Linked DNA regions of Homo sapiens: regions 2 and 3 are each linked to region 1. The links come from fine-mapping of genetic effects on gene expression. A gene starts in region 1. Each other region holds a variant in brackets. All regions are shown on one strand. Distances are between the middles of the regions. Region 1 holds the start of SLC6A6 (solute carrier family 6 member 6). Region 2 overlaps SLC6A6 (solute carrier family 6 member 6). Region 3 overlaps SLC6A6 (solute carrier family 6 member 6).

Region 1 (10,585 bases):
ATCGAGGCTGCAGTGAACTGTGATGGCACCACTGCACTCCAGCCTGGGCAACGAAGTCAGACCCTGTCTCAAAAAAAAAAACCACAAGAAAAACTTTAAAAATACAGATTCCCAGGCTCCATCCCCCTGGAGGTTCTGATTCAGTATGTCCAGGCTGGGCCTGGGAGTCTGAATATGTTTGTTTGTTTGTTTTTAAGTATCCCAGGCAATTCTGATACCTGACCACAGTTAGGGCAGCCCACCTGCCTCCCCCATCATTCCCTCCCCACTCTTTTGTTTCAGGTGGTTTATTATTTGTATGTTGGTTTTTCCAAGAGAAGGGTGGTTGGCCACACAACGCTGGAGCTTTAGAAACAGAACAGCAATTCCTCACTCTCTCTGCTTTCCCTCTCGTAACCCTAACTCCCACCCTTGGCATCAGCCTCTGCCCAGGTTTCCAAATGAAGCCTCTGACCAGGTAAGGCAGGAAAGGAAACTCCGCAGACCTGTCCAGGACTGGCATAACTCACCTAGAGACACTAGGGCTGTGTGCTCCAGGGAGGTCAAAGCCAGCAAGTTAATGGCCTGTGTACCGGTTAAATAGCATGTCCAGGCCTTCACCCCCATGTTTACAGAAAGAGTTCAGGGCAAGACTCATTGGTACAGAAAATGCTTAGTGGCTCGGTGACTCTCCGTCTCCTGGACCCCAGTTCCGTTCCTTACTCACCATCAGGGTTCTCCTGGGCTCCAGGCTTGACTGGCTTCTGCCCCACTATCCTTAAACCCAGTATGACTCCTGCTGCCATCAGGAGAAAGCCCAAACCCACTTACACAGCATTCAAGGCCCTCCGGCTGGCACGGTGGCTCACACCTATAATCAACACTTGGGAGGCTGAGGCGAGAAGATTGCCTGAGCCCAGGAGCTTGAGACCATCCTGGGCAACATAGTAAGACCCTGTCTCTATTTTTATATGTGAAAAAATAAAACGCCCCCCTCCCCACCATCTGGCTCCTATTCCTCTCTCCAGCTAGGACCCGGGGAACCTGTTCTACAAACATGCTTGGCTATTTCACGCCACTGTGCCCTTGTGGCTACTCTGCCCCCTGTGGAGAATGCCAGCCCATCCTGTTTCTCCACCCACAGACAATGGCAACTCCGACACTGTGTCCTCTAGGAAGCGAAAGTGCCTCCTGCCCACTACCCCACCCTCACTGCACACTCAGCTGCTCCTTGGGTCTTCTTCACTGTATCCTACGGATGGTAATGGCCATTGCAGTTACCACATGCTTCTACCTCTGGGACAGGAGCTCCTAGAAAGCCAACACTCTACCTTGAACCCAGTGCCAGCCCAGAGCTGACCTTAACCAAGGTCTATTAATCAACTAAATGAAGCACATTAAAAAAGCGCTCTCATTCTCACTTGAAGGCTTCCTTAGGCATTTCCAGATCCACAGCTCCTGCCCAGAACCCATAAATTCAAACGAACGCTCTGGCCAAGTTGGCAAACACAGGAAAATGAGATGCAGCCCCAAAGAATCTGACTCTTGCTCATGACCTTCTGCAGAAGTGGGGAATCAGCATGTACCTGCCAGGGTGGCCCTGGGATTTCAGGCCAACCCCAATTCCCAGGCAGACCCCCTCTGGCTGCAGCTAAGCTGCATTCTGGGGAGCCCTTATAATTTACTTCTCAGCTTTTTCTATATACGGGAATGTGTTCAATGACTCACAAGTTTCTTATCATTCAGGACTTTTGGAAAGACTTTCAGAGAAGTACACCTCCCAAATCCTTTGACAAACTGACAGGCGGACAAGTTCAGGTTAGAAAACAGAGTCCCCAGAGCCCGGACTGCCTTGTGGAGGGCTGACCCCTGCAGCAGAATGGGTAGCAGGGCTCAGGGGAAGGCACAAGGAAGGGAGAATGAGTAACTAGGGACAGAAGCAAGGTGCAAATGGGTCCCATAGGCTCACTTTCCTGCCCTAAGGACTGGGACACCTTTGTTCCTCATTTTCCCCAGGCCCCGGTTCAATTTCAACTCCCGAGGATATCAGTGACCAAAGCCCCATGGGGCCAAAACTCACAGCTGAGCTAGGGAAAACCTTTTGAAACTTAATTTTGTCCAGTCAAGGCAAAGTCCCTTAGGTGGCTCTCAGTTTGTCCATCTATAAAATGGGTACTGCTCACCAGGCCTCCAGACTCTGAAAAGCAGATGTGGTCCAATCACCACAGGTTGAGGTGACGGGAAGGAGGCAGGGGAGGATGATTGCAGCTGAGCCATGGGTTAGTACAAGGGTGTCCCCAAAGGACAAAGCCTCCAGAATGCACCTTGGCCCTTGCCATACACCACAGTGACCCAGGACCTCGTGACACCCTCTAATCAGCAGCTCTACAGCCGAGCCCGGCTTTACAGCTTACTACAAGCTTATTCAGCCTCATCTCCCTCAATCCCCTCAAGGACGTAGTGAGGCCGGCACTGGTGTCCTTGCTGCCCAGGCAGCCAAGCCGAGGCTCAAAGAAACCAAGGGAATCAACCAAGGTCACCCACCCATTAAAACAAAGCATAGGACTTAAATCAGTTCCCTGGGGACAAGCTCCTACCTCTGGTCCCTGGTTTACTCTATAACCAGTCTGCCCCACCCATTTTACAGGTAAGGAAACTGAGGCAGAAAAAGGGTTGCCCAAGGTCAACTGGGGGCTGAGCCAGGCCTAACACCTCCCACCATTCTACCAGTCCCACCCTGTTGGGGGTTCTTAGCCGTGCTAGGCCCCCTTTGGATCCTCTCCAACACCATCTTGATGAAATTCCTCCCCCACCCCACCTCCTCATGCCCACCCCACAATCCCTGGGTGACTCCCTGGTCGAGAGGGAGGCAGGTGGTTGCTAAGCACTCACCCGCTCTCTCTCTCATAAAAATAAACTCCTTCTGGCTAGGAGACTCTGGACAAGATCCCCTCCCTTCTAGCCAACAAAAAATTAAAAAGAAATTTTAAAAAGATCTCCTCAGTGACATTTACTTGAACGTCAGCTGTGCCAAAGCGGGGGCCAATTTAGTGAAGTCCAAATGGAGCCATGCGCCAGTAAACCTCAGCCCGAAGACCCTCCATTCAAGTGTCTGGGCAATTACTGAGCTGATTTATTTCCCCAGACAGGAAACGGGGGCCCAGGCTGCCTCCCAAGCTTTTGGGGCTGGTCCTGGGGATGCCGGGATCTGGCAGAGGCCCAACAGTGACCAAAATAGCCAGGCCGGTGGCCCTACCCGGCACACACCTCCCTGCCTGGGAGAGCTGCCCACAGGTCTCCTCTCCAGTCCAGGCTGAAGTCCAGGCTGAAGCTTTGAGGCTGTAGGAGGAGGTCCCTGGAATTCTCTCTGTGTGGCTTCCCTAGTGGGAGGGGGACGAGAATCTCCTACTCAAAAGAGGAACCCACAGAAGGAAGAGAAATAGTCTGGAGGGGGAAGTGTCCTGCTGGCCCTGCCGGCTGTCCACTACCCCTTGGCTGCCCCTCCGGGCCTTGGTCCCACCACTCAGGACTGCTGGACGCTGGCGCTGCCACCTGCACACCACCTATGGAGTGCATGCACCTATGGAGCCACGCTGCCCTATCACCTCTCCCCACTCAGCGCCGGCCCTGGAGAACCAGCTCTGGCCATTGGACCCTCTAGGCACCAGGGACACCCTCTTGGGTACAGCCGAGGACACACGAGTGCCCACAACCAGGGACCTGGAGACACAACCACACTCAGGGACACGCACGTGCACCTAGCCAGGGCCTGGAAGACGCAGCCCCCCACACACAGATTCATGCAGACACAAACGGGGACACACAAGAGCACACATCCAAAGACAGCACACTCAGGTATCACACACAGAGAGGCACACACACACAGCCCAGCACGCAGAGAATAACAGACATGCACCGGAACACACATGTGCACGCTGCTGGGGACACGGTGAAACAGTCACCCTCAGAAACACAGACACAGGGATACGGAGGCACATGTAGGCATCCTGACGGAGACAGGCACACAGATATGCCACACACACACACACACACACACACACACACACACACACACACACACTCTCCTGCCGCCCGCACCAAGAGCCGGAGCCCTTTTGCCGGGGAAACAATAACAGCCCCGCCAGCGGGACTGAGCAGGCGACTCTCGGTCCCTTCCGCGGTGGTGAAAGGGGCGCCGGATGGGCGCACGCGGAGGGGAGGAGGCCGGGACTGCGGCGACGCGGGGATGGGGAGGGGCTGCAGACGGCGGGCAGCGCCGGCTGCGCGCCCAGCTCCCGGTCCCTCCGGTACCTGGGGTGGCTGCGGCGCCGCCCGCGCTCTGCTCGGCTGTGCCGGGTTCCGCCGGCCGGGGGCTGCCTGCCCGCTCGCTCTCTGACCCGCTGGGTGAACGCTCCGCACTCCCTCTTGGCGCAGCTTGTCCTCTGGGCTTGCGGTCCTCGGGGCTCGGCGTTGGCGGCGGCGCGAAGGAAGCGGTAATTTATAAGCGGCTTCTTCCTGACCTCGCGTGTCTGTTGTCTGAGCAGGCAGCTCTCAGCATCACCCATCCTGCTGGGTGGAAAAATACCAGCTCGGCCGGGCCGGGGGCGGGGCCGGGGCGGGGCCGGGGCTTCCAGCCCCGCCCCAAGTGCGGACACACGCGCGCACACATACACATGCACACACATACACGCAAACACGCACGCGCGCATGGGCTCGGACACACAAAGAACCCGGGCTCGCCGAGCGCGCGCGCACACCCTCATGCCGCGCGGCGAACGTTCGTTGCCAGGTGCGGCAGCCCGCCCTGGGCGCCTCCTGCCTGCGGAAGAAGAGCAGGACAGACCCGACCCGACCCGCCTAGTCCTTTCCTTCACAGCAGCCTCCAAACTCCACCGCTCGCCTCTTCCGCCAGGCTCCTAGGATGAGGCCCAGGGCTCCTGGAGCAGCCAGGTGCAAACCAGACCGGGCTCGCACTCCACTGCGTTGCCCTGGGCGATCGTCCACGTTCTGGGAGACTCGGTATGCCCCGGGAGGGTGGCCTGAGCTTGTGGTGTGAAGCCAGGTACAGAGCTCCAGAATCCTGGCCTTGCCATGGCTGTGTGACCCTGGGCAAGTGACTCAATTTCTCTGCCTCAGTGTCCTCATCTATAAAATGGAAAGGAAAATAGTAGCGCTTGTCTCCTCCGGCTGTTATGAAGATCCAAGGTTAACAGCGTAGAGAACTCGGAACGCACCCGGCATCTAGGAAGTGCCAAGCCAGTGTCAGCTAATGTGACTATTTTTAAATGGAGATGGGGAGTGTGCCATTATTCTTGTCCTTATTTGAATGAACGGGCCCTCAGGGACCATTTTCCACTGCCCCGCCCTGGCAGCATGAGAGGGAAACGCTGTGAGAACCCCGAACCCCAGCCTTCTCCTGTCCCTCTCTCTCTCTCTCTCTCTCTGCACCTGGGAGGCGGGGAGGAGAGAGCCGATCCTTCCACCATTTACACGGAGAATGAAAGAAGAAATACCGGCCAGGCGCGGTGGCTCATGCCTGTAATCCCAGCACTTTGGGAGGCCGAGGGGGCAGATCACCTGAGGTCAGGAGTTCGAGACCAGCCTGGCCAACATGGCGAAACTCCGTCTCTACTAAAAGTACAAAAATTAGCCTGGCGTGGTGCCGGGTGCCTATAATCCCAGCTACTCAGGAGGCTGAGGCAGGAGAATCCCTTGAACCCGGGAGGCGGAGGTTGCAGTGAGCCGAGATCACGCCACTGCACTCCAGCCTGGGTGACAAGAATGAGTCTCAAAAAAACAAAAAAGAAGAAGAAGAAGAAATACCACACAGGTCCGACCAAGAGCTGCCCCCACTCAGGCCAGGATCCCTGCCTGGAAGGGCTCTGCAGCCACTCTCCCTGTACAGCCCCAGGATGCTAAGGAGCATCCCGAAGTGACACTGGCTCTCCCTGGAGGCCCCTGCCATCGGACTCCAACCTGACCTTCCAGTGGGTGCTCCTCATACTGGCTCCAGCCAAGACAGACGAGGACCACTGGGCACATGCCCTTCCTTGCCTTCCTGTCACCCTTCCCACCCTTCTCTGCGGGCCCCGGGTGGCCCCTTCCTCCAGGAAGCACCTGGGGATCAGCAGTGCCTCTAGGGTCCCAGTGGCCCACGTGACATCTGCTTCTGGCCACCTGAGCACTCTCCTTTGAGTTCAGGGTCACTGTACCCTTTTATAGGTGAGCAAACGAAAGCTGAGGAAGAGGAGTGACTGGGTCTCCCACATCCCTCTGCTTCAGCTATGAGGTTCCCTCATGAACTGCAGGAATAGACGTCAAGCAAAAACTCCTCAGACGCCCTGTGCATGTGTGGTCGCACAGGGCACAAAGACTGAAGCAAAGGGGCAGGTCCTAGCGTGGGGAGGGGACTCCAGGATTGAAGTTTGAACCAAAAGGAGGCTTTGACTAAGCCACGAGCAGTGAAGCCGGCAGGAGAGGAAGCAAGTTCTAGCAGAGGTGCCTGCCGTGCGAAGGCCTGAGAGCAAGGTTGTTGGTGGCAGGGCTGAGCTTGAGGGTCTGAGAGAGTGAGCAAGGGCAGTGGCTGTGGGAGGAGGGAAGAGTTGTGTGTTCAGAGCTGCAACTTGGAAAGGCCCATGGGATCCTTTGACCTCCAGGTAGGCCAGCGGAGCCTCATGCAGGTAGTGCCAGCGCAAGACACACGAGTGAACCATCTATCCAGTTACCAGCTCCATGAGGGATGGGATCTGTTCTTTTGCCTCCATCAACTCCTGGAGTCTATCATAGGCCTGACACACAGTAGGTACTCAATAAGTGTTTGCTGCATTTATTTTAACGTACTTTTCTTTTTTTTCTTTTAAAACGGAGTTTCGCTCTTGTTGCCCAGGCTGGAGTCCAATGGCGCAATCTCAGCTCACTGTAACCTCCGCTTCCTGGGTTCAAGTGATTCTCCTGCCTCAGCCCCGCTAGTAGCTGGCATTACAGGCATGCGCCACCACGCCTGGCTAATTTTGTGTTTTTAGTAGAGATGGGGTTTCTCCATGTTGATCAGGCTGGTCTCAAACTCCCAACCTCAGGTGATCTGCCTGCCTCGGCCTCCCAAAGTGCTGAGATTACAGGCGTGAGCCACCGTGCCTGGCTTTAACTTACTTTTCTTTGGCACTTAACTATGTACCCTGCACAGTTAAATGCATTTTAATAAGTTAACCCTTTTCATCCCGACAACACCCCTATGAGATTGGTACAATTATTTCTTCCGTTTTATAGAAGGTAAAACCGAGCCACAGAGAAGTTAAGTAACTTCCCCAAGGTCACTCAGCTGGCAGATAGTAGAGCTGGAATTCAAACCTAGGCCACCTGGCTCCAGAGGTTACAATCTTGAATGAGGGGATTCTGGGTGGGCGATTGCCAGACAAAAAAACCCAGCCCCAAGGAGAGAAAGGAGGAGAAGGAGGCAAGAAGAGCCCCAACCTCAGCCCCAGGGAGAGGTGGCAGATGAGGTGGAAAAGGGATGGTCAGACCGGAGAAGGGGCCAGGAGGAGCCAATGCCAAAGCTAGAGGCATGCACAGGGTGGAGAGAGCTCAGTGCGGGAGGCCACAGACCCTAGCTCCACCTCAGCCCTGTGGCTTCCCAGTTGTGTGACTTGGGCCTGCAGGCCTGCTCTCTGAGCCTCAGTTTCCTCATTGTAATATGAGATAAAATACACCCTGCCTCAATGAGCCATTCTGAGGAGAGGAGAAGTCTCGAACTGGAGGCCTTAAACCGAATCCAGCTCCCAGATGTGCTTCTTTGGCTGTCACTGAGCTTTAATGTGTTTGGAGTTAATTTTTATGAATAAAAGCTTGGAAGATTTCACATTTAAAAAATCTGGCCAGGCTGGGCAACAAAGTAAAATTCCATCTCTATGAAAATTTTTTTTAGAAATTCGCCGGGTATGGTGGTGCATGCCTATGGTCCCAGCTACTCAGGAGGCTGAGGCAGGAGGATCACTTGAGCCCGGGAGGTGAAGGCTGCGGTAAGCTATGACTACACCACTGCACTCCAGCCTAGGTGCGAGAGCAAGACCCTGTCTCCAAACAACAACAACAACAACAAAATCTGAATGCCTGGTTTATCTTGAAATATGGCAAAATGGGGCCACCCAGGCCCATTAACCCCCTGTCTACAATGTCCTGGAGCTGAGGGGCATTAGCCACCCTCTCACATGGGCTCCCCAGGGTGCCACAGCTCCCTCCTAGCTAGTTTGCTCTTTTCTGTCACCTACCGGCCCTTGCAGGGAGCTGAATTTGAGACCCATGATGCACTTTGTGCACCCTGCCCCCTCAAAGATAACTGTGAGTACCAAGGGAAATGGAAAGCTTTGGCAACAAGAAGGGAGCTTCAAGGAAAGCCAGGCCGAGGTTCCCCTCAGAACCATAGACTAGCCTGAAATTCCACTGGGACTAATTCTTCTCATTTCAAGAATGAAAATCGATTGCTGGACAGAGCTCCCGGAGGGCCAATTTTCAGGCTGTAGTCTACAGCCGTCCACGTAGAGGCAGTGAACGAAATTTTTCAAAGCCTACTTTATGATTACTTTCTTTAGCAGCTCTCAACAGTAAAATAAAATTGATCTAGGACTTTGAACAAAACTTCTCGCCCCTTTCTAGGGAAGAGTTTGTCTCGTCTATCAGGCCACCAACAAGAGTTGTTGCAATGCCTGTGGGAGGTGCAGCCCACGCTGGGCCACCTGGCCAGCTCAGGGATCCTGCTGGAGATCGAGGATTGTCTGGTCGGCCTCTTACAACTCTCAGAACATCATCCCTGGGAGCAGCCCTGAAGAGACCAAGGGTCAGTGGCGGGGCTGCTGAGTGGCTGCCTCCCTGACCTGGCCAGCATTTCCTGGGCACACTGCAGTGTGTCCACGTCCCTGGGTGTGTAGGTGGCTGCAGAGCCTTGTCAGAGCATCTGGGCCTTCAGGGATCTGCTTCCTGCCCACTACCCTCCTCTTGCCTGCCTGCAAATCTCAGCTCCATCCCTCATGGGCTGTGTGACCTAGAGTGAATAATGTGACCTCTCTGTGCCTTGGTTTCTTGATTTGTACAGCCTGATTAATCATAACCCCTCTCCTGCAGATTGTTGTGTGGAGTGAGTGGAGATGATTGATGTGAAGCGTTGAGCCAGGTCCCTGGCACACAGTCTAACACTCTGGAAAGCAGGACCCCCACCTACCCCTGCCACCTGTGTGCTCCAGGCTTTCTTGCCTCCAGGCCTTCACCCTTGCTGCTCCCTCCTGCCAAGCACTTTGCCCATTGCCCTTCTGCAACCTGGGTCTCTGCCAAACTTGGAGCCCCAGAAAGGGAGCACGCAGGAAGCGGGGATGCCAAGCAGTCCCAGCATGGGGCCTGGAGCACAGTGGACCCCAGGAAACCCTTGCAGGATGTGGTCTGTGGGTGGCAAGTGCCTGGGCTCACTTCCTCTTCTCCCTCAGTGGGCACAGCAAAACTGCCCCAGAACTGGACAGACAGGGAAGGTGTCAGTACTGGAGACAGCTCTGCAGGGGACCGGGGACCCACAGTACATTTATTCATTCACTAGCACTGCAGACAGATGCTCTCCAGCTTCACAGACACCCCAGGCCAGGCCATGTTCTCTCCCTTCTGGGTGACTGCAGGGGATGCTTTCCTCCCTGGCTTCCTCTCCTCCCCGACAGCCCATCTCCACTCCTGGGACTCTCTATGGCATATAGCCATTGCAGCAAACAATTTGGTAGTTTCTCTTCTTTTCTTTTCTTTCTTTTTTCTCTTTTTTTTTCTGAGACAAAGTCTCTAAAAAATGCTGTGTTGCCCAAACTGGCCTTGAACTCCTGGGCTCCAGTGATCCTCGCACCTCAGCCTCCTAAGTAACCGGGGCTATAGGCACACCACCACACCCAGCTACTCTGGCAGTTTCTGATAAGGTTATAAATTTATTGTAAGATTAAACACAACACTATGAGCCAGCAATTGCACGCTCAGGTAATTGGCCAGAAAGAAATGAAAATATTTGTTCACCCAAAGACTTGTGAATGGCAGTGGTATTCATACAGTCCAAAACGGAAACAGCCCTGGTTGTATCTATCAATAGAATGGAAAAACAGATGGAAGGACTGCAACTCACAGGTGAAAAGGAACCGGCTACGAGAGGCTCCAAACCAAGGGAGCAGCGGAGTTTGTCTCCAAAACACCGAGCCCAGTGAGAGAAGCCAGAGCCACAGACCAGATGCCCTGCAGTGGGTCCCTTTACATGGCCTTCAAAGTCAGGCAGAGTGAATTGAGGGCCATGGGAATAGGAGCAGTGGTTGCCTCCAGAGGTGAAGTGGGATGGGGTGAGGTGGTGTGGGGTGGTGTGGGGTGGGTGGGGTATGAGAGAACCTGCGGGATGGGAAGGGGCTCCATCCTTACCTGGGGCAGGTCACTCCAGTGTGTGCTGTCGCGTTTCACTGTAGGAAGTGTAGACCTCAGTAAAAATCCCAAGGAAAACCCCCAGACCCACTCAGGCTTCCTTCCTGCTTTGAACCACCTCATGGCCCCCACCACACTGCCACTAAGCCACACTCCTGGCAGCCTCTGAGATACCCCCTACCTG
Region 2 (10,585 bases), 85 kb before region 1:
TGGCCCAGTTCTCACAGGGGTCTCAGGAAAACGGGGCACCCACTCCCACCTCCATCTGTCTCCAACCTGGGGTCCCTGGAGGCCAGAAAAGTGCTCTTCCATTTGAGGGAACAGATGAGGAGTCAAGAGGTCTGTTCTTTTCACCCTGGGTCTGTTACCTGTTTGCTGTGTGACCCTGTCTGGGTTGGACCCCCAGCCCCTCTGGACGATCACGGGTGGACAGTCTGAGCAGACACAGGCCTCCTGGTCAGGGCCGGAACCATCTCTGCCGACCCACCAAGGCCCCCTTGGGGACCTGCCCACGCTGTCTCCTGGAGGCCTGCCTCCCTTACCCCTCCCCTCCACTTCGCTGGGCTCTGCCCCTTGGTGCCCTCCCTGAGGGCCCTGCATGCTTGTGCCTGGGGTGCTCAGCGCCTCTGCTATCTTGGATTCCCGTGTACTCAGCCCAGAGTGAAAGGGCACTGTCTACCTGTCACAGGGCACCAAGTGAAAGCCAAGAGCCCTCACTTTTGAGGGTGAGGGACAGCACAGCAGAGGTGTGGCTTCTGGATGCAAGCAGCCATAGCTGTGTGACCTTGGACAGGTGGCTCAGCCTCTCTGGACCTCTGCTAAGCAACAGGGCTGGACAGGACACACTCTCAGGGCCTCTCGGCTTGGGAAAACTGCATTGACTCCAGGACTCCAGGCGAGGGAAGATGCACCCGACTCTAACTAATACCCCCCTCCCTCCTCGGGCTGAGGCCTCTGCCATTCTCCCAAAAGTATGCAATCAGGCCCGCGGTGGGCCTCCCAGCCATGCCGGCCTCCTCATATGCAATATTTCTTCTGGCTTCTCATGGGGATGGTTCATCCCCGACTTGAAATTTCCTGACACCTTTCCCCAGTGAGCGCCCTGCCTGCCTATGCATTTTGGGAACAGCCCCTGTGACATGTCCCCTTCCACCTGCCCTCTCCCCCAAAGCTGTATTTTTCTCTGGCTGAGATTAGAACACATTCCTTGTAAAGTATTTTTCTACATCGGGTTTTCTTAGGGCTCTCGGGAAGCACAAGGGGCTGTATTGCAAAGGCCGCTTATGGTCTGTTTGGGGCCCTCGTCTAAGTCTTTGTCCCACCAGGGGTTGCAGTGGCTTGGGGGTAGGTGCCATGGGGATGATTTTTTAAAATAAAATTATTTAAATCCACCTAGAGTAGAAGTTTGCTTTTTAAAAAAATCATGGATTGGCAAGAGTCAGCTTCTGTATGGGTCTGGTGACATCTCACCTGCTTTTGATGATTCATTAATTCAAAAAGTTTGCCATTTGCTTCCATCATCCAGCCCCTGGGCAACATGAATCAGACAGATTTAGGTCATGTCTGCACATTCTGGTGGCAGGCAGACAATCAACAAGTAAGCAAATAAATAATTATTTCAAAAGGCATCAAGTGCAACAAAGAAAACAAGGGAGTAACGGGATAGAGGGACCAGGGTGAGGGGCTTTAGCTCACAATATTAGGAGGGGTTTCTCTCAAGAGGCGACATTTGCAATGAGACCTGAAGACAGGAGCCAGCCTCCATGGAGACCTGGAGGAAGAGTGTCTCAGGCAGCGGGCACAGCTAGTGCAAAGGCCCTGAGATAGGAACGAGTTTGACGGTCTCAAGGAAGAGAAAGAAGGCCTGGGAGGGGAATGGGGCTGGAGACTAGGTTGGAGGTAGCAGGAATCAGTCGTGAAGGCTTGGGTAGGGGGAGCAAATTTGATTCTCTGCGCAGCAGAAAGCCAGAGGCAGGCAGTGGTGCCTGCATATGGAGTCTCTTTAGCCCAGGTTGGGAAGGTAGTGGCAGGAGGGCAGCCTCAGGTCTGGCTGCTGCCCTGGAGTGTCCAGAGAGTGTCTAGGGCAGGTGAGCTACAGGGTCTGGGACCCAGAGGCCAGGGCCAGGCCCCACTGGGGAGGCCACAGTTCTGTGAGCAGAGGAAGAGCTTCTTTCCAGGAAGCGAGTACTCTGTCTTGGGAGTGGTGTAGGCAGGGGGAAGGCCAAGGGAGGCAGCAGGCCTTGCTCTAAGCGCTTTGCAAGAGCTTGCTGGATCCTCCCAATAGCCTTTGGAGGTGGGCTCTATTCCTGTCCCATCATTACAGATGAGGAAACAGGCACAGAGAGGTTACGTAATTTGCCCAAGTCCACACAGGTAGTAAGGGATGGAACCAGGGCTTGAACACAAGCCACATGGCCCAGTACACATAGAGAGAGGCAGGCAGGTAGGCATAGGCTGTCAGAAAGAGCCAGAAAATGGGGGTAGGGTGGTCTTCTATTCTAACATTGTCTATAAATGAGTTACTGAGAATTTTGTCTGGTTAGTTGGGCAAAGGGCTCAACTGACTCCCGAGTTTGTCCATCCCAAAGGGTGGGGGGCGCTGTTGGCAGGAAGGCTGCCCCAAACATGGACCTGTTGTGACCCCAGAGAGCCCCTAACTGGGTATTAATGAGCGCCTGCACCTGACGGTGGGGGAGTGGGAGAAGGGCAATCAGGTTTGCTCCCCCTCTACCCTTTCCCCCACTCCGCCACCCGCTTTCTGCCCTTCTGGCAGGTCAGCCCAAGGCTAAAGAGGAGGGACTGAAAGCCGCAGCAGGTGAGCACCTAAGGCCAAGAGCATCACCTCCAATCATCCTGGTGGCCTTGATGGGGACAATGGTTTATTCCAGATGGGGAAACTGAGGCTCAGGTGACTGCTGCCAGATCTCCCAGCTGTACAGGGCTGGGCATGTAGCAGGTAGAATCAGTAGAGCCAGTAGAGCCAAGAGCTCATGGGCCCGGGTGCGAATCCAGGTTCTTTCATGGACTTGCTGTGTACCCCTGAGTGAGCAAGCTGCTTCCTCTGTGAGCCTCCATGTGGGAACCTCTAACCTGGGAAAATACCTACCTTTGAGGAGCGTCCTGGGATTGGACGGGAAGCCCTTTATAAAATGTAAAGCGTTTGGCAAACGTTGAGGGGGAAATACCTCACCAGAACACAACCCACACATGTTGGATGTTAAAAAGGAAATGTTTATTTTCATGTTATAAGGTGATTACAAACTCCTCTAAAAAAAGCAAAGATGAATTTAAAATATTGATATACATATTTATCTAAAAAGCAAAAGAGAAAAAAACCCCTGCAAAA[T/C]ACAGGGAATCATATCATAAAACATTTATACACAAAAGCTTGTATACTGCAAGACTGAACTACACACCAAGGATCTTGTTCAAATACAAATGTTCCTCCTCAGAAAAGTCTCTTGTTGGTTGATTTTTTTTTTATAAAAGTTTAAAATATCTTAAAAATATTTTGAAGTTTTAAAAAAATGTCCTGATGAGCCAGACATATTTCTGGAAGGAGGCAAGACCCACATTCTCAGCTTTCTCTTGTGCTAAATACAGAGTCACAGTTGCTAGGGATTGGGAGATTAATTGGGTAAAAAAAAAAAATGAAGCCAACATCTCAATTTGAAGTCAAATATATAACAGGATGCTCCATCCCTCGGAGAACACGCCAGAACATGTCTGTAGTGACACCCACAAGAGAACAATGCAAAAATGCTTCCTATTACAACAATATATATTCTGAGGATCAGGGAGAGAAGGAAAGGGGGAGGGCTGCCCCCTGCTTTCTGGACTGCCCACCTCTACAAGTTTGGCTCTCTGGGTTTGTTTTGTTTAGTCTTGTGGTTTTGTACTTCGATTTTTGCACACAGTGGTATTTACCGTGTCCCAGGCAGCCTGGCCTGGGACCACATGGGTCTGAGGGAGGGATGGGACCTCAGGCCACCTTGAAGGATTTTCTCTTGGGTCCTTTCCTGGCTTGTGTCTGAATCTTGGGTGGGGTGGGCTGCGGGGAGCAGTTAGGTGCCTCTGCCTTTAGACTGGCTACCCAGAGCATTTCCCCAGGGAGAGGGGCTGTGCTGGGAGATGCTGGCTGGGTGGGGGACCAGTGTGGCGGTACCCGGGTGATACAAGAGTGCCCTGAAGTGGGCTGGAGGGGCCATGCTGTGCTCTCCCCTTGTGTTTCCCCACTGTCTTTGGGGGTATGCTGGGGATCCAGGGGGCAGTGAAGGAGCTGCACATGGCCCAGGGGTTATGCTGTCCTGGAAGGAGAGCATCCAAGGCCACTTCCTGCTGCCTGGAAACTCCCCGCAGAGCCTCGGGGTCAGTCTGGAGCCAGGGCGACTTCATCTAAATCCTGCCTAAGGATCTGGCACACCTCTGGCTTCTCTGCACCTCAGTTCCCTCTTTCACAAACAGGGATCTCAATTCCTAGCTCACCAAGGGCTGCTGGGAGGAAGGAGGGCCCCGTGCAGGGCTGGGGTGTGCAGGTGAGGCTGGAGTCACCCAGCTCACGGAGCCACCGCATGGGTCCAGGAATTCTGTGAGGATGGTGGGAGTGTGGCTGCTGCTGCTCCCCTCATCCCTGAACATGGAGGGGAGCGCATTTCCTTTTCCATAAAGGCTTGTCTTTGGTTGTCAGGAAGACCTTGAGGATGTTGCTGGATGTAGCCCTGGTTAGACACTCACCATTCCCTGCACCTACCTCGGAGAACCTGCAGCTAGAGCTGTTTCAAGAAAATCCATTCCTGGCTCACAGTGCCTCCCTGAGCCTCAGTTACCTCATTTACAACAAGGGCGTTGGGTTAGGGGACCCTGGAGGCCCTTCTCTCCCTGACCGTCAGGAAATCTCTGTGGCCCTAGCATGGCCCATCTCAACGCAGTGTCTCCCACTTCTTCATCTTAAAAAATTGATTTAAACAACCCCCTCGCTTCCTTTCCAGATCTGGCTGGCTGGGCTATGTGCGGGCATCAGCATTTCTGACCCATCCCAAGCAGAAAGCAGGTGAAGGACTTTGCCCATTCTCTATAGACAGGTGGACCAGAGTCATGAGCTCTCATGGAAAGTTTCGTTTATACGGAGACATGAAGGTTGAGCATTATTACACAGGTACTCGCAGAGCTATGCTCTGCACACAGAGCCAGGGCTGGCTGGGCGAGAGGGCTCTGATTGGAGACAGGTGCCTTGGGGAGAGTTGAGGAACGACTTCCTTCCAGGCGGGGCCTGGGGACTTGGTCTGCCTGTGTCTTTGGTCTAGAATTTGGTCTGAGAATCTTATAAGAAGAGGCCTTCCTCAGGCCATGTCCAGAATGTTGCAATTTGCCTACCAACCCAAAATACTGTGGCCTTTCACCCAGGGAGCCCCCGCTGGGGAGATGGAAACTGAAATGACCACAAATGCCCAGGTAGCCACTGCGTGCCAAGTCCCCTCTTCCCCACGTGCCACCTGCCCTCAATCATTGACAGTGGTTAGTTTACTAAAGTTATATAAGACAAAGGAAAACAGGTCACAATGCTACTCCATAAAATCAGGGAAAAAACAGTAAAATCAAATCAGACACAAACGGCAACCATAAATACATAGAAAAACAGGAACAAGATAGAATCGTTGAGAGTTTGGAATAGGACTGGGTGTTGTTTGGCAGAGTAGATAGCTTTGGAAACAGTGAAATATGTATGCCTGCCAAAGATGGGGTTCAGAATTGCCCCTTGGGAGGGGGACACCAAAGGCATACTCCTCCTCCCAAATTTAAGAAGGGGGTTTCCAGGGTTCCAAGAGCCCCTGCTGTGAAAATTCTGCGGTCTGCACCCCTCGAGGCAGTGACTGCCTTTGTGCGTGGTCACGTTTCGGTTTCATTTAGACTGAGCTTGGAAGTGACTGTTCAAATGGCACAGTTTAGGTCCAAATAGGGGCTGGGTGGGGGTGTGTCTGCCCTGGGGATTTGAAAGGTATAGTACCTTCTCTCCTGGTTCAGAGACAACCTCTGCTCCACATAAGGCCCTTGATCAAGCCAGTTCTGAGGGGCCAGGACCCTGACAATCCCAACCTTCTAGAAAACTCTCCTAGGCCTTCTCTTTTGGGTCCGCAGGTGGTAAATGTCTGTAAACCCAGCTATTGCAGGGGTTTTGAAGTGAAGAGCTTTGTTATATCCTAGGTCAGCACCACGGGCTGCCCTTGTTCTGAACTGGGAGCACTTCCCCCAGTGGAGGATACAGACTCAAAAGCTGTTCTTGGTGTGCCTTGCTAGGTGCCAGGGCAGCCCAGGGTGGCATCTTTAATGAGGGCTTGGCAGGAGTCTCCCAGGCTGAGAGTGGGGAGTGGGGAGATGAGGAAAGAAAGCACCCCTCCCCGACACCGGGCCCATCTGCATGCCTGGGGCCTATATCCTTTGGTCCACTCACCTCCCCACCACTCCCCTAGTCCCTCAACAGGTATGTCATGCTTCATTCCTGCAGGCAACTTTAAGAGATGCTGAGATGTTGCTTGGGGAATGACCAGAACCTGCTATGACCCCATTCAAATGCAACAGACTCATCTGAGCCCTGAGACCCCAGCTCCTGCCGGGAGAGCCTCTGCTCCTTCTCTGCCTGGAATGCCCCAGGAAGGACTGTGGCCTCCTGTGCCTCTGCCACCTCTTGCGAGGCTGAGTTGTGAGCCTCACTCCTGCCAGCCTTCTTGGATCTCTAGCAGCTCCCTCTCTGGCCAGTGGTTCTGACGGTCTACTGACTATCCACTCACCATCTCAAAATTAAAAGTGGGATTTTGCTTCTGGTACAAGTTTCTACTGCTCTTAGAATCAGACTTCTGCTATAGGGCCTCCTCATTCAGCTTCAGCCAGTCTCCTTTATGTGAAGGGTTGGTTCATTCCTTTGGCATCTCTCTTCTTCACTAAGCCAAGTTTAATGAGGTATCTCCTCACAGCCCTCCTTTCTTCCCCCTGGGTCTGCCAGCTAATGGGTCCTCTCTCCTGCTATTTCTTCCATCTGAACCAGGATTTGGAAGGTATACCACCTTAAGATGGGTGTAGAGTCCCAGGAAAATTCCATCCTGCGTTTACTGGACAGAACTTTCTGCCAGCTACACAGCACCGAAGAATTGCTTTTGAAAATGAGATCTATTGCTGGCAAGAAGATCAATTCAAGTGGTAAAAGTATATGACAATCTCTAAGTGTATATATACTTATATGTAAAAAAAAAAATACAAAGAAAAATTTACCAAATTCCCATAAAATACATCTAATTCAGTATGAAAGCTCTGCCTCTCCACGGACATCTTCCCGTGGGTTTTCTTTTTGTACAAAATATCCCCCAAATCAAAACAAAACACACACACACGATACACACACACACACACACGCACGCACACATACCCACAATTACATTTTCTGTGACAATTACAAAAAAAAAAAAATCCTAGTGCAAATATAAAGCTCTGTAAACCTGGTCCTATGAGAATCTAATGTTAGTAAACAGCAGGAAAGCCGCCGGCCCCGTCGACCCGAGAGAGCTCACATCATGGTCTCCACAATGATGTGGGTCGGTTTCACGAGAGCGCCGTTCATGACGGTGCGAGAGTTGTAAGGTGTGGCTCCCTCGCGCTCCACAGCCCAGCGGTTGGGTTCCCTTGGGGTCAGCAGGTACTTGACTCTCTGGAGAAGGATGACAGGAGTGAGGGGGGAAACGTCAGGCGGCCTGGTCTCCCCTTCGCCAGGGCCATCTGCCTCCTCCTGAATTGGCTCATGTGCTGTTTGGTTTTTGGTAAACTCACACCCTCTCTGATCTCCTGTTTTTGTCCTTTTTGGAAATAATGGAATTGAACTAAGGCGCTCCTAAGGTGCCACTAGGCCCTGACTCAAGGCGGAATTCCTGTTGGTGGTTTCCTTCCTTGGCCAAACCCCTGCTTACGTTCCTACAGGGATGGGGGACTCAACCTTCATGTGCTTTTTTTCTTCTATGGAACTAAAATATGCCTCCCTGTGATTCTCTCCCTCTGATTTCTCTGCCTTGCAAAGCAGCAGTTGAGTTCCTCTCATTTGTATGCCCTGAGTTGGACAACTGTCTTCAGCCTCCATGGCTCCCACCTTCCCCAAGGAGAAACTCCAAACTCCTCAGCCTCCCATAAGCTACACTTCCTGCCTTCTTGCAGAGACAGGTCTTCCCTAGTTTCCTGAAGGCATCCAGTCCTCCCAGCAGGGTTTACATCTTAAGGGCTTGGAGAACCTTGCTCGCATTTGAGCTGCCCTTCCAAGAGATAGGAGCTGCATGGGAATTCTAGATCACTCCTGAGCAGGGTGAGTTTTGTCCTCACAGTTGGTTGAGTGTCCCTCTCCAAGGATACCCAGAAAATCCATGTCAGAACTGGGACTCAACCAGACTCCCACTCCCCAGTCCACCTCTTGCCAACTGTCAACTCAGAGACTTGAATAGGCCAGCAGTTGAAAGACAAACAAACAAAACAACAAGCCCTCTTTCTAGGCATTTATATTCAACTTAGGTATGTTACAAATTTTTAAAAGCTGCTTATTAAAAGCTACAGTATTTCATTTAAAAACCCAGTTTTCGGTAATCCCAGCACTTTGGGAAGCAGGAGGATCGCTCAAGGTCAGGATTTAAAGGCAGTCTGGGCAACACAGTGAGACCCTAACTCTTAAAAAAAAAAATTAAAAATTAGCCAGGCATGGTGGTACGTGCCTGTAGTCCAAGTTACTCGGGAGGCTGAGGAAAGAAGATTGCTTGAGCCCAGGAATTTGAGGCTGTGATTGAGCCACTGCACTCCAGCCTGGGCAAAGGAGCAAGACCCTGTCTCTATTTTTTTTGTTTTTAAATCCAGTTTTCCATCTTTTCTTGAAAAGCTGCAAGATCTGGCAACTCCAGGCCCAGGTCCCCTCCTTGTAGCACCTTCTCCAGTTTGCTCCCAGCCCTACCCCCATGACTTCCCTCACCTGAGCCACCTGCCAGCTCTCCCTCCATCACTTTGCCTCTCCACATCCATACAATGGGCTGTGCCTGGGAGGGCGGAGGAGAGTCAAACCCCCAGGCAGCCACTTGGGGCTCTGCCTACACAGGAGGCTCAGGCAGAGCTGGAACCATCCTGGGACAGAGATCTGGGTTTGCCAGAACCTGGCTCAGAGAGAAGCTCATGGCTGGGAGGACACCTTGATGACTTGTGCAGGTGGGAGCCCCTGAGGGGCACATAAAGAAAGACAGACAGATGGTGGCTCAACTGCCTTCACAGGGGCCTTTGGTGAAGTCAGACTGGCACAGGAGGACGGGGTACCAGTGTGGGGTGAAGCCTGCCCTCACCCACTCCCCCACCTCTTTCCCCCATGCCAACCCCACTCCACCCAAACTTCTAAATGTGGGCTGGACCAATATTTTAAAATGAGGCTTTGAAGGACACCAAGTTAGTGACCTGTTGGGTGTCCCCCTGAACCAATGGTATGTAATTGCTTTGGGCACTCACCAATCAGAGCAGAGACCCCTAGACCAATCAGAACCTTTAGAGACCCCTTGCTGTGCCCTAATGAACCCTTTGGCTTCTGGACAGTAAGGACATTCTGGAAACTCTGGTTGGGTTGGCCTGGAGTATTGTGGGGTCACCTGGAGGGCTCGGGACAGTCACTGTTCCCTGCCTGTCCCCAGGCCCAGTATTTCAGTCTGTTAACAGCTCATAGGGCCATTTAGCGTTCTGGCTAAAGACTGGTTGGGGTGCTGCCCTCTGTCCTCTGAAAAAATAGAATGGGTCAAAAGCTCCAGGATAACCCCAGGGGCCCCCCCAGTTTCAAGGATTTCCTCCTGCCCTGCCAGCTTCCTCAGTCTCCCCTCCCTCCCCTGCCACCAGCACCACCTCCAGGCCATTCCCCTGCCCAGGAGGAAACAGGACCCAGCCCAGCAGGGAGCCAGGGCCCCAGGACATCCTGGCTCCAGATTTTTAAAAGAGAATAACAATAAAAACAGCCCAGAACAAAACAGTGCACTCTTGGAGCCAGCCCAAGCTCAAAAGGTTAAGGGAGATTCTGAGAAAAGAATTTCTTGGAAAGAGTAGGGCCTTTGCCAGGGCCTGGGATCTCCAGGGCTGTTGGAGGAATTTCTGAGAGGAGGCTGAAGGTAGGTGGGGCCAGGGGAGGCCCCAGCAGGCACAGAGGCAGAGGTCTGGCTGCCGCCACAGATCCGGAGAAGACCCCAGCATGGGCTGGGATGATCCTAAATTTGGCTCCTCAATAAAAGAAGGCATCTGGGTGGGGCTCAGGCTTCCTCCCTAGGCTCCTGGCTTTGTCCCACCGCTTCAGGAACATGGCCCCACTGGTCCCAGGATAAAGCCCCAGCTCTTAGCTTGGCATCCAAAGCTACAGTCACCTCTCCAGCCTCACTGCCCACCCCAACTCTGCCAACACCAGGAACACCTTCCCTCTCACATTCTCCATCTGGCAAGTTCCTCCTCACCCCACAGCCCGGCTTCCAATGTCTCCATAAAGCCTTCTCCCATGTGAACTCTACTTGCTTCCCGTCTTCCCACAATGCACTCTGCTGCCCATAAGCTGAACCACTGGATGGGTGAGGGAACTATGGCTCAGAGAGGGCAGGTGACTTGCCTGAGATCACGCAGCAAACTGACAACAATCACCTTTGGCCTCGCGCCTCCCACCTCCCCTGGCCCTGGGCCCAAGCACTTACCACAAGGAACGGCCCCTCAGTCTGGCAGAGGCGGATGACGATGACCAAGGGAACGCAGAGCATGGAGGAAAGGGCCA
Region 3 (10,585 bases), 66 kb before region 1:
GCTGACTACCCCACACTAGGCACTGGCTACTCTACAGCCAGATGCAGCCACTCATCGGCTCTCACTGGCATTCCCTGGCCATGAGTCACCTTCTAGTGGAGGCCTGAGCCCTGAAGGGGTGGGATACGGGGTTTAGAAGTGCAGGAAAGAACCTCAGTGGAGACAGGAGTCCTGCCTTGGGAGGGGAGAAGCCAGGACAGCCAGAGGTCAGGGCGGGTTTGAGCGAGGCTCCCGGCCTGTGCGGTGTATAAAGCACGGGAGGGAGCCAATGCCCAGCCCCTCGCACGCTCCAGGGAGCACAGAATCCTGAGTGTGGCGTAGGCTTCTCCTGGGCACTTGCAACTTATTACGATGGCCCAGACAATGATCAGCTCACACAGAAATGTGGGTCCCTTCTCCGAATCGCCCATCTGCCATGTCCTCCTGTGCCCCGCCGACGCTCCACTGGAGCACATCATGACTTATTGAGTCATGACCTCCAATTCGTCATTTGTGGCTTGACTGTAACCACAAACCCTGGTTGTCCCTGTCATAACCCACCCACTCCGAGAACCTCTGGATGCCCCTCTGCTAGCAGATAATGTGCCATGCCACGTCTTGTTTGCACTCCATTAGGCTAAATAATTATCTTGTTCAAATGCACTTTCTGGGGACGCAGAGCTTTTTCTATTCCTGGTGTCCTGGAGGAACCCTCACAGCTGAAGCACTGGAAGTCTGACTGGAGGGGGGAAGGGGGTTGACCACCTCCCAGGTGGAATAAGGAGTCTTTCCCAGAGTCAGGTTCCCCACAGGGGCAGTCGCCCCAGGGCCATCCCTTATACGCACCTGGCTATCCAGTCCAAGCAAGAGAAGCATAATAAAAAAAAGAATGGACCAAAATGTGGGCAGCGGCATCATTGTCACAGCTTTTGGGTAGGCAATGAAGGCCAGGCCAGGACCTAGAAAGGAAAGAAAACGGGGAGGGGCACAGGGGAGGAGACATCAGCCACCAAGCCACTGGGAACCCTGGGCTCACACAAAGACACTCAGACCCAAATACAGCAGGGAGCCAGGTCTGAACTCTGGCCTGGGGAAAGAGACCAGGCCTGTCTCGCCTTTGGGTGGGACACGCTGGGGCTCAGGAGGGGCCCGGTTTTAGCATCTGTCTCCTACACAGCACACGTGGCCTCCTCACACACCAGCATCCATCGGGGCGTGGTTATTTGGGGTAGGATGCAGACTGAGCCCAGGGCTTGGTCTGCAGAGACAAAGGAAAGGGAGGATCCTCCCACCCCAAAGCAAAGCCATTGAGTGGACAGCCTTTGCTGGAAGGAGGCGGGGGAGCGTGGTGGTGACCTGACCGCCCAGTCTCCTTTGCAAAGGGAAAGTTTCTATTTTTGAGTTAATGGCTAAAACACCATAGGAGTGGAAAGAAAAACCAATACAAAACCACGCCCAACAGGAGGCCTGTCTCTTCAGGGGTGCATTTGTGGGGCTCTCCCTGGCAAGGTCAGAGCCAAGCCCATGAGGTCAAGGTTGGGCCAACCAGGGCCCAAAGCTGAGGGAACATGGGTGCAGGGGCAAGGTCCCAGGCCTGCAAGCCCTGAGGCCTGCATCCAAGTCATCCTCTTCCAATTTCCTTTTTGAATCACCCCATACCCTCTCAGGGCCTCAGTTTCCCCACCTGAAAAGTGAGGGGCAGGTGGCCATAAATGACTCACAAGGAGCCTTCCTGTGTTTAGATTCTCAGAGGTAGACACCATGTCACTAGAAAAGGGCTCTGGGTTTCAAAAGAAGGGACTTGGATAGAACCTGAGGGAGAGCTGGGGAGATGGGAGCTCTGTCAGCTCAGGGGATGTCTCTGATGGGAGACATTCCGGAGACAGAGAGAAATGTCTCCTCCTGTCTCCAGCCTGCCTGAAAGCGGATGCCAACGGAAATAATTTAATTGTTAACTGAGACCTGTGGGTCTGAGAAGCGAGGGCAGCAAAAGAAAGTAAAATCTACAACTAAAAAAAAAAAAAAAAAAAAAAGTCAAGAAGCAGGAAACAAAAAGGGCCAGAGCAGGAGCTGTTCAGCAGGGATTAGAAACCAGACGAATGGCTCAAGAATGAAAAACAAAAAGCAAAACCCAACTTTACAATAAATTGGAACCAGAAACCACATTATACGGTGTTAACACCCCCAGTGTGCCAGGGAAGGGTGTGTCCTTTTACAATCCAGAGAAAACCTGACCAAAATATATCCTTGGGCAGCGACAGAGTGGTTGCTCGCTGAGATGCTGGAGACCCCCATCAGGAGCGGGGGTTACCAAGCCCAAAACTGCTCAGAACATGCCCAAAAGAACCAGGGCCAGGTTCAGAAAAATATGGACCCCAGGACCCGGTGAGATGACTTTTGAATCAAAGTTGAAGTTGGAGTCAAAAGCCGCGGCGTTTCCACCCAGACCGGGGCCCCACTGGTCCCTACAGAACATCAGCGTTGGCCCTGACTGGTCCACACTGAATGAGGAATCGAGTCCAGCCAGCTGCAAGACAGATGCAAAATGGGCCCCCACAACCCCCAACCCACCAGGGACGTTGTGAAGATTCTCAATTCGCTCGTTTCTGTATTTTAGTTTTGCCTTTCTCAAGCGAGCCTCTGGGAGAGGGTCTGAGCGTCTTTCTCTAAAAGTGCATGGTGAACTCAAGAGAGAGAAGTCCAGGAGACATAATCCAGCCACTCCGAGAACCTCTGGATGCCTCTCTGCTAGCAGACAATGTGCCATGCCACGTCTTGTTTGCACTCTGTTAGGCTAAATAATTATCTTGTTCAAATGCACTTCACTCAATATGGTGCTTGTTAAAAGCTTATTAGAGAAATAATCACCCTTGATGTGCCGGCTGTTCAGACATCACCGTGGGGAATAAATGACAAGGTGTTTGAAGTGGACGGGAGGAAAAAACAACTGAGATTGACAATATATGTGTCTACGAAAATACTTCGTTGTCCATGGAGGAAGATACATTGTATGTATCTATCTGTATCTCCCATTGCCAAATTCACTCCATACTCCTGGAGATTCCCACTCAATTGCGATTGGTTTGCAAGCCCTCAGCTGAAAGCAAGCCATCTACAGAGGAGGTATAAATCATCTCTGGCTCCCCCTCACCACTCTAATTGCCAAACTCCCTAAGGGGCGTGGGGACTTCTGGAGTTACATTCTGTGTCCTCAGTCTCTGGCCTGCTTTTGGGGGCTCTTTGGGCTCAGTGGAGGGAACAGTACATCTGAGGGTCCACTTTGGAAGCAGGGACAGTGGAGAGGTGTGTGGGGGTGACATGTGGATTTGCCAAGGGGGTCCTGCAGTGTTGTCAGGGGTCTCAGGATGGGGCTGGGCAGTGTGCATCTCTGCCAAGCAAAGAAGACAGTGAGGAGGGGCCAGGGGCTCTGGGAGGTCACAAGGGCCAAATTCTCACACTGGAAGGGCCAGAGGTTGTTGCATGTGTCCAGGGTGGGCTGGATGGCAGGAGGGGGACACCCTTGTGTCAGAAGGCCTGTCCAGCGTGTGACAAGTGGAGAAATAGTGGACAGGATGTTCAGAAAGCCCTGTTGTAGCCCCACCTATCCCAAGCAAAGCCCTTGCTCTCAGGTTGCTGGTCTCCTCATCTGAGAAGGGAACATCTGGACACGCGATGCTGAGGCACCTTCTGACCCCCCAGTGCTAGGGCTCTAGGACTCAGGGACTGGGACATCGCCTCATGTTCCAAATACAGATGGCACAGGAGGTCAAGGGCAGTGGAATGGCAGGGCCTCCGGCTGTGTCTGGCCCTAGTCTATGGTGGTCCCTGAAGTTAATAACCCCCACGCTCTCCCTTCGGCTTGGAAGGAGCCTCAGCCCAGGACCTTGCCACCTCCAGGTAGCCCCAGGGAAGTTGTATGAAATTAGGACATGGACGGGGTGGGGCTGGGGGCTCAGCATGTAAAATAACAAAACCAACTGATGACCACCCTCCAAGTAAACTGTGCAGGGCCGGGGAAGGGTGGAGAGGTCGGAAAGGTGGACTTTGAGGATCCTGGGAGCCTGAGGGAATCCCATAACCCAAGCCACTGCAATTAAAGCTACAGACCCAGGACCTCAAGCAGCCATGGCCAAGTCCCAGAATCGAGGCACCTGAGAGATTGCAGATTCTAGCAACTGAAGGCCCCATGATTCTCAGGTTCCAGAAGCACCTTGCTGGAACTCTGGGATCCCAGATTCCTAAGTTCCCCGTCTGTGCAGAGTCCGTGATTCTAAGCCACTGGCATCCTCCATGCCTGTGACTCCAGGTAGCCCGAGGAAGAGTGCCTGGTCAACAGGGCCCACACCCCGAGGGGCGACACTGTGCTTACAACCCACCCCCAGTTGGATCTGCCACCGTCCCAGTAGGTCGTCCCCTCATCTACGCCCTCCCCCCACACACTGCACCCAGTGCCTACGGTGGTGCCTGACACAGAGTTGGGACTCATTCACGAGAAATCGGTGGGATGGATGAATGCGTCTGCTTAGAGGGAGCACGCTGGGAGCAAAGTGCAAAATACAGAAACCAAGGCTGAGAAGGTGGTGATGGAATGCCGATTGGTGGCTGACTTGGGCCTGAGTTAGGAAAGTGGTTTCTATTGTGGAAACCAGGAGTTTGCTGGGGAAGGACGGGGGGGCGGGGAAGACCACACTAAGGTAGCTAAAAATTCCCCAACTTAACCACCCCCCATGCTTTTGCCACCCATCAGGGCCAAATTGCAATACAAATGTTTAAAATTTGGCTTTGTACTCTTTGAAATTTGGGGGA[T/C]ATCTTGGTGGCGGGGGGGGGGTCCATTTTAGAAACCAGGCTCGTCCCCCCTCAAAGCCCCCTGGGGTCTGGCTTCATGCCTGCAGTACTTGGCTTACACACTAGGTGGCAGTGCCCACCACCACTGCCACCGATACCACCGTACCTGACTCAGCCACATCAGCAATGTCCACCCCTTGCTCTTGTGCCATGAAGCCCAGGATGGAAAAAATTGCGAAGCCAGACACAAAACTGGTACCACTGTTCAGGCATCCCAGCAGCATACAGTCCCTAAGTTACACATATGTCAGGGAGCAAGTTAATTCACAACACAAGGAAGCCACGCTCCCTACTTCTCTTTTTCTTTAAACATCATCATCATCATTTCTAAAGTCCACCAGGCCCGCCGGCGCAACACTTGCCTGTACGAGTTATACTTGTACTTGTTGTAGCTCCCCAGCGAGGTCATAGCCCCCAGGCAGATGGCATAAGAGAAGAATATCTGAGTCCCAGCGTCAATCCACACCTATGAGGGGGAGGGAGGTGGCAAGGAAAGAGAGGAGGGCTGTCAGAGCTGGCTTCCTGGAGGAGGCAGCGAGGGTTATGTCCACCTGGCGATGGCCTGGGGACGGGACCTTGCACATGCAAATGGAACATTTATGCTCGAATCCAAGGTGCCTTTCAAGGCAGTACTGAGCTGCAAGGAGCCCCAGAAATCAAACACCCCACCTCCCAGCGACCTAGCATCAGGGTTAAGAGGATTCAGAAGCAGATGGATCTGGATTCCAACCCTGGAATGACAGTGGGCAAGTAAATATCACTCCTGCAGTTTATAGATAGTTTTCACATCTATAAAATGGGCTCCTTTGCCCTACCCCATAGAGCTATTTCCCAGGTTCAAAGAGTGGCGATTCAGCCCAGTGCCAGTTACATGGCAAGCCCGTAAGTCAAGGCTGCTGTCACCACCATTGTTGTTACTGTTTGCAGACCCCCGAGTTAGAATGCAGAAGGAGGTCCCAAGGAACTATGCAGGCAAAGCTGCTCTCCAGAATCTTCACTAAGCAGCTCGTTCCCAGCTGTCCTCCAAGGCTGGCCAACCCCTCTCACAACTGTGTCCTGTCCAGGGGGAAGGGTGGTGGGGAAGGAGAGCACAGGCCCTTGGGAAGCAACCGGAAGGCCCTGGGGATTCAGGTCCTCAAACAAACCCAGAAAATCTCCCAGGGCTTTCTCCACCTCCCCAAGGTCACAAGGCTGAGTGCCAGAAGGTGTGCTTTCGGTATCTGCCCGTGGACCCTCCAAGGCCATTAACTCTGAATTCCACCCTCAGCCAAGGAAGCCCGCAGCTCTCCAGGCCCCGACTCTCCCATCCCCAGGATGCAGCAGCCCTTGTGGCTGCAGTGGGCAGAAGCTGGGTCCGAGCGGGAGACTTGCTCATCAGAAGATTTCTCCCCCTTGGTGCAGGGCCTAAAGCAGCCTCTCTAAGTGGCCACCCTCAGACGTCCTTGACATGAAAAGAGATGCACACAGCTAGAAAGGTCCATCAGCACCGTGGACAGGCACACCCGCCACAGGCCCGGTGGAAAAGTACCAGGGGGCGGTGGCCCAGCTAGACCTGTGCACTGAAGAACCACGGAAGATGTGCTGCCAGTGGCCTCTACATCCTGCCCTGTCCTGTGCCGGCCCAGCCCTGGATGGGAGGGAGGATGGTGTGTCCCAGCCCCACAGTACCTGTGGGTCCTCAAGGCGGGTGATGTCAGGATACAGATAGAACTTGATGCCTGCGCCCGCGCCCGGCAGCGTCAGCCCTCGGACCAGCAGCACCAGGAGCATGGCGAATGGAAAAGTGGCTGTGAAGTAGACGACCTGCAAGGGCGAGAGGGATTCAGGAGGCCATGGGCATCACTTGCTGCTGCTAAGTCTGAGCATCCTCTCAGAGAGGCAGAGGGGAGCACTGGTCAGGATCAGGAGTTCTGGAGCCAGGTTTGCTGTCTTACTTGCTGTGCGGCCTTTGGCACATTGCTTAACCACTCTGGGTCTCAGCTGCCTCATCTGTAATCTGGGTATATACAGGTACCTACCTCACAGATTTCTTTTTTTTTTTTTTTTTTTTTTTAAATTTGAGACGGAGCCTCGCTGTCACCCAGGCTGGAGTGCAATGGCACGATCTCGGCTCACTGCAACCTCCGCCTCCTGGGTTCAAGTGATTCTCCTGGCTCAGCCTCTCGAGTAGCTGGGATTACGGGTGCCCACCACCATGCCCAGCTAATTCTTGTATTTTTAGTAGAGATGGGGTTTCACCAGGTTGGCCAGGCTGGTCTCAAACTCCTGGCCTCAAATGATCCACCTGCCTCAGCCTCCCAAAGTGCTGGGATTATAGGCATGAGCCACAGCGCCAGCCCACCTCACAGATTTACTGAGATTAAATGAAAAACATCCTATAAATAGTTTGTCCCAGGCACCATCTAAGCACAAAATACAGTGGTGGATAAGACAGAAAACAAATCCCTGCCTTCGTGGAACTGACATTCCAGGGCGTAGAGGTGGAAAAAGCAAAATCAGAGAGTAAGCTATCAAGTGCGTGTGTAGAAGCCTCAGCCCAGTGGTTGCCAACCATGGCATGTGCCCATTGCATGCAGGTCATATTAGTTAACAACTAACTACAATGTTGGTATGATTCCTATGGTTAGGGATCAGATAAGCAAGGGTTCAAATCCCAGCTCCGTCCCCTCATTTGCTGTGTGATCTTAGGCACATTGCTTAACCTCTCTGGACCTGTTTCCTCATGAGTAGAATTCAGATAAGAGTAATAGAAGCCCCTCAACAAGGGGTGAGCTGAGGATTCAATAGGATGATGCTTGTAACACTGCCACTCAGTAGGTGCTCCAGAAAGAGGGCCTGTTGTTGACACTGATTTTGCTGGAAGGACGAGACCTTCAGGGAAGAAAATGAGGCCTCTCAAAGGCCCTTAACTGGGAATAGGAAAGGCTCCCCGCTTCACCGGGCCTCTGGGAGACCCATGGCCTTCCCTGGGTCACACTGCATGTTCCAGACAGGCCAAGATCAGGTGTGAGGTGGGGACTAGAAACGATGTGGCCATCTCCTCCCAAAGACCTTCTCTCCTCTTGTCCTGCAAGCGCTGTTTGTGGCTTCAGTTCTCATGGATGGATTTTCCCATCTTATTCAACACAAGGAGTTTCCAGACAGAGATTATGCCTGGGAGGAGTTCGAAGGTGCCTGGCTGAATGGACAGTTCGATCCTAGTGTTTCAGGCAGGGCACTGGCTGAGTAGGAACGTCCCAGGCACAAGCCCACTTCATCCTCACCATGCCCCCCAGGACGGTGGTTTACAGTGGAGAAACTGAGGCTTGGTGGGCTTTAAGGACGTGCCCAGGGCATCAACGGAATCCAGGATTTGAACCCAGAGCCTGTGGAGGGCTAACCTCTGTGCAGAAAGGCATGAAGTGTTTTACTTCGACATGCAGAAAGTTCATGGTGGCCACCTTGAAACATTGAGACTGGTTGGCAGAGCCCTGGGCCGCATCTGGGGATCAGGGGACCTTGGAGGAACCACTGCACAGTCAATGCACCCATTTTACAGGAGAGGAAACTGAGATGAAGAGAACAGGACAAATGTGCCCATGGAGTTGGGGGTGCAGTGCCAGGGCACTGCTGGGGCCCAAGTATGTAACAGACACTGACCAATAGTGACAGAGCCCCAAACCTCACCTAGCTGGCACCACGACCCTCGACAGAGCAAATTCTTGTGGCCATGATCCCTTTGAGTAGAAACAATGAGAAAGGGGCTTTGGAAAAGGGCAAAAAGGAAGCTTTCAGGGCCTGCTTAGCTCAGCTGCCCTCAGCCCAACAACCCCTAGGCAGCGTTTATTGAGCACTTACTGTGTGCCTAGCACTGTTCCAAATGCTGTGACGTCTATTTTCACTGGCCCGTGCCCTAACCCTCTGAGGTAAGTTGTATTACTATCTCCATTTTGCAACAATAAAACTGAGGCCCAGAGAGAGTCCATCACTTGCCCAGGGTCACGTGGGCTTAAGCAACAGAATGGGGACCTGCCCCACAGCCCACACATAGCAGACCAGCAAAAAGCCTCCCACAACTGGCAGTTTACTGATTCTCCCCAAGACCAGAGGGCAGCCAGTAGGGAGGCCCTCAGGTCTGAAGCCAAGCTTAGAGGCTGGCTTGCCATGAGACCTCCAGGAAGCCGCTGTCCGCTCTAGACTGTTTCCCCACCAGGAAGTAAAGGGCTGGGACCGTAGGAGCTCTGAGGTTGCCTCCCACTCTGCCACTCTAGGTCGAGGGGTAGAGAGGCTGTGGGTCAGCTGGGGAGCCACCTCTACCAGGGGTTGCACGCTGCCTCTGCCACCCCTTGCTGGTGACCTGGGCCTCAGCTTCCCCATCTGTCCACTGAGGATAAGGGAACGCTGACCTTGCTCGATGGCCCCTGGCCTGCGGTGAGCATTCAAGAAGCCTCTTTGGCCGGCACTGTCAGGATGGCTCTCCGACACTGACAGGCTGGGCCCTACTGCTGCCTCTGCCCCCGGGCGTCCTTTGTTCCTCCAGGCCTCAGTTTCTCCAGCCACCGTCATCTCTTCTCCTTGAGGCCAGGAGCCTACATGATTTCCCGAGGATGGGAAGGCAGACGTGGAGGGCGGGGGCACATCAGGAAGCCACAGAAGGGGGGAAAGAAGTGAAAAAAGAAAACCAACCTGCCTCTCCCTTCCTGAGGACAGGCGGACAGGCGGCCAGGCGCCCCGACCAGTTCCCACCTCTGGGGCCCTTTGTGGGCCACACCCGGGCTGGCGAACAATAGCTGCTGACAGCAGCCCCGCAGGGGTCTCCAGAGGGCGGCCACTTCAAAGCCAGCCAGGCCTCCACTGGGCCAAGCAACCCAGTGGTCTGTGACCAGAGGGCTTTGTGTCAGGGACAGGGGTGTGGAGGTGGCTTTCTTTGTTTTCACGTAGTTAGTTTATTTAACAAGCACTTATGCAGTGCGGATTTTGTGCGGGGCACTCAGCTAAGGGCTTCGTGAGTTTTAACTCATTTAATCCTCAGACAACTGAGAAGAGCCAGGCATCAGCCTCACCTGCATTTTCTAGATGAGGAGACTGCCCAGAGAGGTGGGGGCACCTGCCTGCAATCACAGTTACTGGTGGTGGATGCGGGATGGATCCAGGCCAGCTGGTGTCAGGTCCCCACACCTTTGGGATGTGTGTCATTGTTCCTCCCCAAATCCTGGTCACGCCACCTCAGCCGTGTGAAGGGAAAATAAAATCTCAGGACCCCAAACTCACTATGCAGAAGGAAAAAGTTAAGCTTGGGAAGTGAGTCACACACACGCACAAAACCGGCCTGCTTTCTGTTCTTCAGCAGAGAGTTGTGAGATACAGGCCACGTATCTCCCCAGGCGGCCTCCCTCACCCTGACAATGTAAACTCACAGCTCATCTTCACAGGTGCCGGACAAAGAGACAAGAAATGAGCCATCCACCCACACATCTAGGCATGTGTCTCCTTCCTCCACCGTGTGTACACACCCTACCCTATGGAAAATGTGTGTGTTCTCTACCCTATGGAAAATGCAGATTTGCTGAGAGACATCGTGCATAATTACCTGAATTACCTGTTCCTCTGTCCCTTCCTGCTGTTTCCCCTTACATTTTTTTTTTAAGACACGGTCTCTGTCGCCCATGCTAGAGTGCAATGGCGCAATCAAAGCTCACTGCAGTCTCAACTTCCCGGGCCTAAGAGATCCTCCTACCTCAGCCTCCTGAGTAGCTGGGACTACAGGTACGCGCCACGATGC

The links.
Region 2: its variant is fine-mapped to the expression of SLC6A6 in monocytes after interferon gamma (Fairfax 2014, PIP 0.95).
Region 3: its variant is fine-mapped to the expression of SLC6A6 in whole blood (TOPMed, PIP above 0.99).

What each region holds. Positions count from the first base shown.
Region 1 is chr3:14,396,553-14,407,137 of GRCh38, reverse strand. SLC6A6 (solute carrier family 6 member 6) reads right to left here and starts at 4,532. Exons shown (of 15, transcript NM_003043.6): 1 at 4,291-4,532. LOC105376959 (a long non-coding RNA gene) reads left to right here and starts at 4,731. Exons shown (of 8, transcript XR_007095825.1): 1 at 4,731-6,477; 2 at 7,901-7,994; 3 at 8,629-8,809; 4 at 10,085-10,229. RefSeq lists silencers at 764-934, 4,209-4,738 and enhancers at 3,349-3,428, 3,499-3,558, 4,879-5,048, 5,059-5,108.
Region 2 is chr3:14,481,765-14,492,349 of GRCh38, reverse strand. It overlaps SLC6A6 (solute carrier family 6 member 6), which reads right to left. Exons shown (of 15, transcript NM_003043.6): 14 at 10,509-10,585; 15 at 3,001-7,483. The coding sequence ends at 7,343. It overlaps GRIP2 (glutamate receptor interacting protein 2), which reads left to right. Exons shown (of 24, transcript NM_001080423.4): 24 at 1-3,243. Among named protein-coding and RNA genes, the nearest start is that of GRIP2, 53 kb to the left of the region's middle. The variant T/C (reference allele first, on the strand shown) is at 3,137.
Region 3 is chr3:14,462,558-14,473,142 of GRCh38, reverse strand. It overlaps SLC6A6 (solute carrier family 6 member 6), which reads right to left. Exons shown (of 15, transcript NM_003043.6): 7 at 6,493-6,627; 8 at 5,187-5,290; 9 at 4,931-5,055; 10 at 826-938. Among named protein-coding and RNA genes, the nearest start is that of SLC6A6, 65 kb to the right of the region's middle. RefSeq lists an enhancer at 229-1,120. The variant T/C (reference allele first, on the strand shown) is at 4,786.